2 separate regions of the Homo sapiens genome follow, and region 2 is linked to region 1. Evidence: fine-mapped expression QTL. A gene starts in region 1. The other region holds a variant in brackets. All regions are shown on one strand. Distances are from middle to middle.

Region 1 (4,397 bases):
TTAGAGGGTGACTGTTCAGGTGACTGGCAGCACAAGGAAAGAGGGAAAAGCCTTTTCTGTGAATTTCACAGGCAGGGTTGCAACGCGGTGTGAGCATGGAGCAGCTTGGCACAAGGCAGCCTTGAGAGTCCCCTGGCTGGCTGCGGGGATGATGTCAGATCCCGACTGGATGCTGCCCCATTCAGTCAAAGCCGTGCAGCCTGAAATGGCACATGTCCCCATCCAGGCTGTCTGGGCGGGTCAGCTGGCCTGGAGACAACAACACAGCCTCAACGTGACAGTCCCCACATTCTGCAGACTTAAAAGGGAAATCCTTTGGATTCTGCCTGGACTCCTGGGGCTCAGCCCTGGCCTTGCCTTGAGGGTGCAAAGAGGAGTAAAAATATGGGAAGGCCTGTGTGCAGCTGCAATGGATTCTTCAAGTGATCAGAGGCGGTTTCCTGCCTGTGAGGAGTTGGTACCATGAGCGTCTTGTTCCTTGGGTCCCTCCTTTCCTCTGCTGCTGATGCCCCGCACACCTTGCCCCCTCCCTATTGCTTCTCCTCACCCCACCTCACTCCCAAGGACGTCTGCTTTTTTATTGTGAATTTCAGCTGCCTGCTTGTTTCACCTCCGGTTACTCAAAGGTTTGCCCCAGTGTTTCTCCCCCTTTAAAAGACTCCATTCCTAGGCCTTCCTGCTCCATTCCCTCATGCCCTTCCCTGGCTTTCTCAGATTTTCATTTTCATTTCCCTTCCCATTTCTACAAAGGCAGGATGTAGAGGAAGGCCAGCAGAGGGCAAAGAGCCCGAGAGCCGGGATCAGGAGACAGGAACGTGTTGGCGTGTGGCTCTAAGCGAACCAAAGAGACTGTCTCTGGTCATCCGTGTTCCCCACTGTTGGTGAGGCTGGGTCACCCAGGCCAGAACTCAGTGCCATGGGTTGTGCCAGTGTTGGTGCTGTGGCGGATGCAAGGAATGGGACTCTGCTCTGGCTTGTGCACACCTACCGAGTAACAAAATCTTCATGTCTCTCTCTGATACATGCACACATATTCAGATAACTAGATAGACAGGGAGATAGATAGATATATGGATAGATTAGATAGATAGATGATAGATAGATAGATAGATAGATAGATGATAGATAGACAGATAGATGATAGAAAAATATCTGTCAGAATAAAAACATAATCCTATAGGCCAATAAGGACTCAATCAAAATCTTACAGGGTCACTGAATCAGAATCATTCTTCCCCTGAACTCACTTTCATGACTCTTTGCAATCAGGTGTATCTGTCCACCCCATTTTTTTCACAGTTGGGTGAAATGAGGAAGTAGTGTAAGGCTGGTTTTTCTTTTGCTGCCACAAAGGTCTACATAACTGCTGGTTCCTGTTCACAGTGAAAATGGTCCTAACCAGATGAATAAGGGACACAAGAGACATAACACAAATCAGAGAAGTTAAAACCAAGCTTATTCCTAAGTGCAACTAGCCTAAGCAAGCTCATGCCTGCCTGCTGAAGCCCCAAGTCTTCTACCTTGATAAAGGTTACTCCCTCCATTTTAACTGCTCCTGCCTCCCCTATCTTTTTTCGAACACCATGGCTGATTTATCTAAACCCTATGCTGCTTCACAGTATTTTGAAAACAAATTAGAAATCTCCTTCCAGTTTTCCAGAGGTGATTAAATCCAAGACGCCTTAGGAATGTAGAGGATAGAATAATATAAACAACAGATCTGAGATAACCATGGCCGGCAGCAGTTGTGGTTAGTTGCTTCTTTTCCTTTTTCATCCATCAGTGATGGAAGCTGGATTGGGTCCACTGTATAAAGTTCGGTGGGCATAAATCTGCTATTTGATCCTGGAAAAACTCTAAGGATCTAGAGTCAGCGAGGAATTGCAGCAATGCTGGTGTTTCAAAGGGCCTAAGAAAAGCCAGGAGTCCTGGCTGCCCAGCCCCGACACTGTCTTACAGGCTGCAGGTTTACCTTGGTTAGCACAACAGGCCAAGCTCTCCCTTGCTCTAAGTCGACATGACATGATTTGTTCCCTTTCGGCTGTGTCAGTTCTGCAAACCAGATACCAGAGGCTGCAGGCTCAGGAGAGCCTGCCTGTCTGGAACACCGTTTGTTTGGACAGGACAGGCCACTAAGGCGTTTCATCTCTTTAAAGCTCCCAGGGCAGAGAACATATTTGAGGAATTCCTTTTTTCAAAGATTTTTTTTTTTTGCCCCTTCCAACATTTTGTTTAAGAGAAAATGAGATGTCTATCTTCTGTTTCCTTATTTTTTTTCAGGAAAGCAAAGGGTTGTTGACTTCCTCCCTCTCCCCTCCCTTCCTTCCTTCTTCCCGAAGGTACTCATCTGAGAAAAAGAGAACGAAGTATTGTTCCTGTTCTCTTTCTTAAGTCATTCGAAACACTGTCCCTGCGAGTTCTTTAAGTTCCCTGCAATCTGTACACAAGAGAAAGAGGGAGAGAGAGAGGGAGAGAGACAGAGAGAGCAGGGATCAGGTAAAGGAGTGGGGCTGCTGCAGCCATTCAGACCTCAGGAGCTGGTAAGTTACCCATGCAATCATTTCTGCTTCCTTTTCAAGGTTCCTGGGTGGATACTGCTGTGGGCATCTTCAACAGAAAATACCTTACTGGGAGTAGTCCTTAACCAAAGGGTATAAGTGATAGATGGCCCAGAATTTCAGCTAATACTTTTTTTTGGTAAGAGAATACTGATGCTTTGCAGAACTAAGGCTGGCAAAACTAGAAATAGAATTACATTGGGACTAAAGAGGACACTGCGTTAAATCTGAATTTTGGCACAGATCATGTGGCTGGGAGAACCAGGAGCCACTGGCGTGTGAGATGTGTCCCACTGGAGAATTTGCTCTTCCTCAGTACTGTGTCCTGGGAGCCTTATCAGGGTGTCTGTTAAGGACTGTGGTTTGCTCTGGGGTTTTTGTTAATACGTTACCTGGATTGAGGTGCCCTTCTCCTGTTCTTTTCTTTCCATTCAGCATCCCCCTAAAGGAGGATTGTTAATTGTTATATGATGGTTATTCTGCATCACTGAAGTAGAAGGGAAAGAGAGAAGGGAATGTCACTTGGAAATAGTTCTGCATGTGGGGAGCTTATGTGTTCAGGTTCCCCATGCGGGTTGAGTGTAAATTTATTATTCACTGTCAGTGGAAGATGTCATCTGCCACATGATAGAAGGCAAAGGTTTTGGGGCATATAGCTTTAGTTTTGGAAAACAATATGCAGCTAGAATGGGAGGATTAAGATGGATCATTTATGTCAGTAGGAGGGAAAAACTAAGTTACAGACGCAATTGAAAAGCATTCACCCAGTGCCTGGTTTTCCAAGCACCAAATAGGGCGTAGCAAGCTAGTCAAGCTAACATACACAACTAGTTTTTAAAAGTCTAACTTGCTTCAATTAGATTAGTCATAAAGGATAATGTTACCAGCACCTATCATCGCAAGCCATGAGGGAGCCGAAATCATGTTGTCAAAAATAGGTCAGCAAGGTCACTCCGAGAGACTCGTTATGTTTCCCAATATTAATACTTTAATTCAGAGAGATGCCGAATGGGTAAAAGCCAATGGCCAAGCATACTTTTTAAAAATATTCACTGCTATGAAATTTACTGATTGAAATCACCTGGGATGTGAAGAATAAGATAAAAATAGCTGGACTCTCATTTTAAAAATTAATTTGGCTAGACTATGCTTTAACCACATTCAAGTAATTAATCTTTATTCAAAATTGAACCATCATCTTACTAAGGATGAGAAAACATGACAGAACTAGACTGTGATGTAGCTTTTGTTCCATTAGTCAGACCTCTTTTTTCTTCTCCTTTTTTCAAGGATTTTCTTTAGGAGCATCATAAAACGAGCAATGTAAAGAGACGTGAATAGCGTTTGCCAGCTTGCGGATGCAAAATTATTCTAATAACAATTGAAAGTGTTTTACTGCTACCCTACCACCTCCCCTAACTACTCCATTTCCATAGATCTTCAGATCAAGAGGTAGCTGGAATAGATTGTCGAGGGCATTATTGCATCATTTATCAGCAACTGTGGCCCCAGAAGAAAACGCAGGTCTGCGATCTTGACTTGCTCCTTTCAGTTTCATTTCTCTTGATAATGTATTGAATTTTGTGCTCAACTAAAACAACATCACAGAACACATTCTAGTTTTGTTTACTGAGTAAAAGCATCAGATGCAACACAATAGGAAACAAATGACAGCAGAGTCATTTGTTAAAGACAAGGAAGGCAATTAAATTAAAGACAAGGAAAGCACAAGGTGGGTAGGCCAGTGGCTCAGAAAACAGCCCCACTGCTAGCATGACTATGGCTTGAGATTAAGAAGCTGAGGATATGCAGTTTTCTTTTAAAGAAAAAAGTGTATTC
Region 2 (4,397 bases), 35 kb after region 1:
GTGTGTGTCTGTGTGTGTGTGTGTGTGTGTGTGCATGGGTGTACATTTGAGACAAAGAAAAAGAAAGCAAGGTTATGAATGTGATGAAATCTTATTAAAAAAATTAACATAGAAAACTGAAAAATTACAGTAACCTTCCTTTCTGAATTTGGACTTTCCCTCCCTTACTCTGATGTCCTTTTTTATTTTCACAGTTTAAGTCCCAAAAGAGAGATACAAACCTGTCCAAGATATAAGTCCTGTGATTATTTCAATGTAGTGGAAGAATACTTAAACCCTCACAGATTTAATCAACAGTGGCATTTTCCCCCCTCCCCTGTCCTTTCTCCTTTGTGTGCAGTGGAGAACCACAGCCCTCCAAGGAGACTTTCAGGATGGCTTAGCTGCCCCAGCTCCGTGCAGGAGCCTGAGAGTTCTGAGCCTTTTAATTGGCCTTTGTGGTGCTTCTGAGACAGTGTCAGAAACTCCTGATCTCATCTTCTTGAGGCCAAAGACATAGATTTAAGAGGTTAAAGGTTCATCTCCAGTACCAACAAATGCTCTTTAAACAATGTGCAAATTCAACATAGTGCTCACAGCAATAAATAAGCCATAATGATAATGTTTGCTGCTGCAAATTTCTCCACATGGCAAATTAATTCATTCTGATTCTGAACTGGCAACCAATGGCAACATTAATTTGCCAGATGGAGATACAACCTAAATTCACATGTGCTCTTCAAGCCACAGACAAACCTCTTTTCAAAGGCAGATATAGCAATGCATAGTAAGAGGATCACAACCAAGCAAGGGATATCTACTGAGTATCTTCATGGTGACCAGTACAGTGCAAGGTGCAATGACAGAAGAGAGTATGAATCCTAGGCTGCAGGGAGCTTAAGCACTGGTTAAGCACTAAACCTAAACACAAAATAATCAGAGTGCAATATAGGGGGAAAACATACATTTAACCCGGGGATCAGTGGGTTTAATGTCATAGGATTTGAAACAAGAGACAGATAACTGAGTAGGGAGCAAAGGTTTCCGGGAAGAAGCTGAACTTAAGTTCAGCCGGGAAGAATGGAATGGGTCAATGAAAAGAACATTTCTGGATGGCCAATCAGTCTAAACAAAGGCAACGAGGAAGGAATTATTATGCCTCTTGTAGCTAATTGTGAAAGTCTGATCTGACTGCAGTTGACAGGATTTTAGAGAGAAGGGGAACAGAGTTGGACTTGATTATGGAGAACTTTGACAGTCAGGTAGAGGAATTGACATTTGATTTGCTCTATATATCAGATAAGGATTGTGTTTCGCTGCAAGCCACAGAACTCTGAATACATTTTCTTAACCAAGTAAAGGATTCATTTTCTCAAATAACAAGAAGACCAGCACCAAGTGGGTACAGGAGCTCCACACTGACAATCTCCCTCTACCTCTTGACCATACATGGTAGGAAGCATTGTTGCCTCATTGTTCCAATATGGCTGCTCCTCCTCCAGCCTCATATCCACATTCCAGGCAGTTTTATCTACTATTTATTGTAAAAGAACAGAACAAAATTCTCTTAAGACTAGCAAATTATAGCAATTTGAAAATCCATCACTTACAAATGTTAAGTACTGGT[G/C]ATTGTATAAGATAGTGACAACGCAGAAAGGTTTAGGAAATGGTCCCTGGCTTCAAGGAGATCCCAGTGTTGTGGGAGGTTAGATTATGCAATACCCCATGAGGAAGCTCCCTCGAGGGTGTGGGCATAGTCTGTGGGAGTTGAGAGGAAGGGGGACTGATTCTGTCTGAGGGCTGGGGCATGATTTGCACTTTGATATTGTGTGGTTCTACAGTGGTACAAATAGGACTGGACTTTTCATTTACCCTGAAAGCAGCTTTTAAGCAACTCAACTACATTAGGGCCCCGGGGAAGGACTTTACATTGCCAAAATCTACAGGGCTCACCCTTGACACGCCAGAGTGCCCTCTCAGCACTGGGGAAGAAGCCAGGGAGAAACTCGGAGGGCTGGAATGGAGAAACTGGATTAATCATATTTGCAGTGTGTAATTCTGTAATTACTATGAATCTTTCTAACCGATTCTTCTTTATTTCAAGGTTAACTGCAGTTCATTTTTGGACTTATACTTACTGGCTTTCTTAATGCAGTTAATTGAAGGTCAGCCTAATTTTGCAAGTCCCCAAATTCTTCCTCTGTTCTACAGAACCCACTGGTAGGGAAGGCTGTGGCACTGGTTGGGAAAGGGGAAACTTTTTCTCTCATCCTTCACATCCAAAGATAGTCCTTCATCCTTTTCATGTTGTTTTAACTGACATTTTAATGATTAAATAAAAACACACAAAAAAAGAACATTTTGAAAGAAAATAGTTTCTGATGTTAGTCAAGGAAATGTAGTTCTGCTTTTTGTTCTCTCATGTTCAGTAAATCAACCAACCAGTTCAATATTCCTCTAGTAGCTCCTAAAATGTTTTGCACGACATCTGGTTGTCAGTTTCTTTCACTAGATGGTGAGTTCCTTGAACCTAGTTTTTGGTTTATAAGACATTGTCCTCCTGGCACCCAGCATAGTGCAGACACAGAAGAGACACTTGAAGCAGTTTGCTGAGTGAATACCTGCAGGGCAGTTCCTCACAGTCTGAGTTTTTACTGTGGCTTGTATTTATTTTCCTGATGATACAAGCCTAGGTCATAAAACTGTATGCCCAAAGAAAAAGCCTGGGTGAAGTCTGACAGGAGCATCCAAAGACCTTAGGCAGAGGCTAAGACTGGAGGATCACTTGAGGCCAGGAGTTCAAGACCAGCCTGGGCAACAAAGTGAGACCCCGTCTCTTAAAAAAAAATTTTTTTTAAGACCTTGGGCAGAAAAATCAAGGAGTCTATTAAAATGCCTCAAGAGAATTTTTCAGAGCTCAAAAGGAAGGGAATCCCAAGTCTAATTTTGTCTGAGTGTTTGCTGTTTGAAAGCCAATATGAATTTTTACATTTTTAATGCAAGTGTTTGAATAGCTAAGTCATCTACAGTGTATAGAAGTATAAGTTGCAAAAGTATACCATTAAAAGTTTCCTTTCCACCCAGGCACTGAACAGCTGCAGAGGCACCCACCCATAGACTATGATGGGAACGGCCCCTCCATAAATTGGTAACTCAGCTGCTTCACTCCCAAACCTTCCTCCTCCAGCCATACAGTCCTTTTCCCCAGAGACAGCAGATAATACCAGATTCTTCTATTTCCTTCTAGAGCTAGGCTATCTGTACATGTACACAAGGAGATAAGTGCATGTATTTTATCAGTATGTATATTTTATAAGAATGATTTTAGTGAGCAGAATCAATAGAAAAAAATCAATATGAAGCAGACGAATGAGAAGACTTGGAACAATAAAAATGTAAAGTGGGGAGAAAAGGTATCCAGATGCAGAGTGATCATTCATCAGAAGGCAGAAATATAGCAAGAAGTCTACTACATAAAATAAAAAGAAACAGTGAACAGTGGGGTCACAGACCCATCTGCCCATGAGGATGGGCTTTTCCACAAAGCGAATGAGCATTTGCATGGAGAGTCACGGGGAATCTGCAGCTATTGAGTCAGTGAGGGAAATCATGGTGGCCTGCTCCCCCAGGACACACTGTATTTGCAGGAATGTGGGTGTGTTTTACTCTGTGGTTGCATACTCACTGAGAGACTCATTGGCATTTGCCCACTGTCACCTTGGGCATTTTCAGAACCTTCCCACATTCCTTTATGTTATTTCAGTGAAACAGGACATTCTATCTTTCATATCAAAGGAACATGCCACTCATTGGCCAAGGAGCCTGAGCCAGGATGAAGCAGGGGCCATCCATTCTGAGGAGCACTACCCCAGTCCCTGCTATGCCATGGCTAAAGCACCTTCCTCATGGGAGATGTTCTTGGCAGTTAATTTACGCGAGGTTGGCTTGGGATAAACTGGGACAGGACAAGTCAACCAGTTAGTCCTGTCTTCCGGAAATGGAAAAATTTTGCTTGGGATCAGGGAGCAAGAGAAACCTAGGACACGGTTATTTGTCAAGTAAATTTCCAAGTAATGATTGGATTTGAACCATGTATGAGGCACCAGGCAAGTTTCTGACTTTCTAACCAAACTATGTTAGAAATATAGGACATCCACCCACACAGAAAGGTGACTGGCAGCACAGGACCCTGCCAATGAGTGGAACATCCAACAATTGTGATAGGCTTCAGAGAAGTGAGGGGTTCACTTCTGGCTCTTTTGGAAAGAAAGGTTTCACCTAGAAGTCTCCATAAAGACTCCACTGGGGAAGGTTCTCTCCTCCTCCTGCCCTGCAGAATCTTGCAGCAATATGGCGGATACAGCCAATGAAATGTCAAAGAAAGAAGGCAGTTGGCTGCTCAGGTAGGCTGCATGGGA

Alleles and levels. Positions count from the first base shown, and alleles are read on the strand shown. Sizes are in standard deviations (SD) of each study's normalised expression.
In carriers of allele G in region 2, the expression in monocytes of the gene that starts at base 2,381 in region 1 tends to be lower than with C alone (moderate effect, 0.46 SD a copy in Quach 2016).

Evidence for each region. PIP is the estimated chance that this variant, and not a neighbour inherited with it, causes the effect.
Region 2: its variant is the best candidate, but not a certain one, in a credible set for the expression of ZNF366 in monocytes (Quach 2016, PIP 0.53).

The regions. Positions count from the first base shown.
Region 1 is chr5:72,505,394-72,509,790 of GRCh38, reverse strand. It overlaps ZNF366 (zinc finger protein 366), which reads left to right and starts at 2,381. Exons shown (of 5, transcript NM_152625.3): 1 at 2,381-2,540.
Region 2 is chr5:72,470,289-72,474,685 of GRCh38, reverse strand. All of the region lies in intron 1 of ZNF366 (zinc finger protein 366), which reads left to right. Among named protein-coding and RNA genes, the nearest start is that of ZNF366, 35 kb to the left of the region's middle. The variant G/C (reference allele first, on the strand shown) is at 1,607.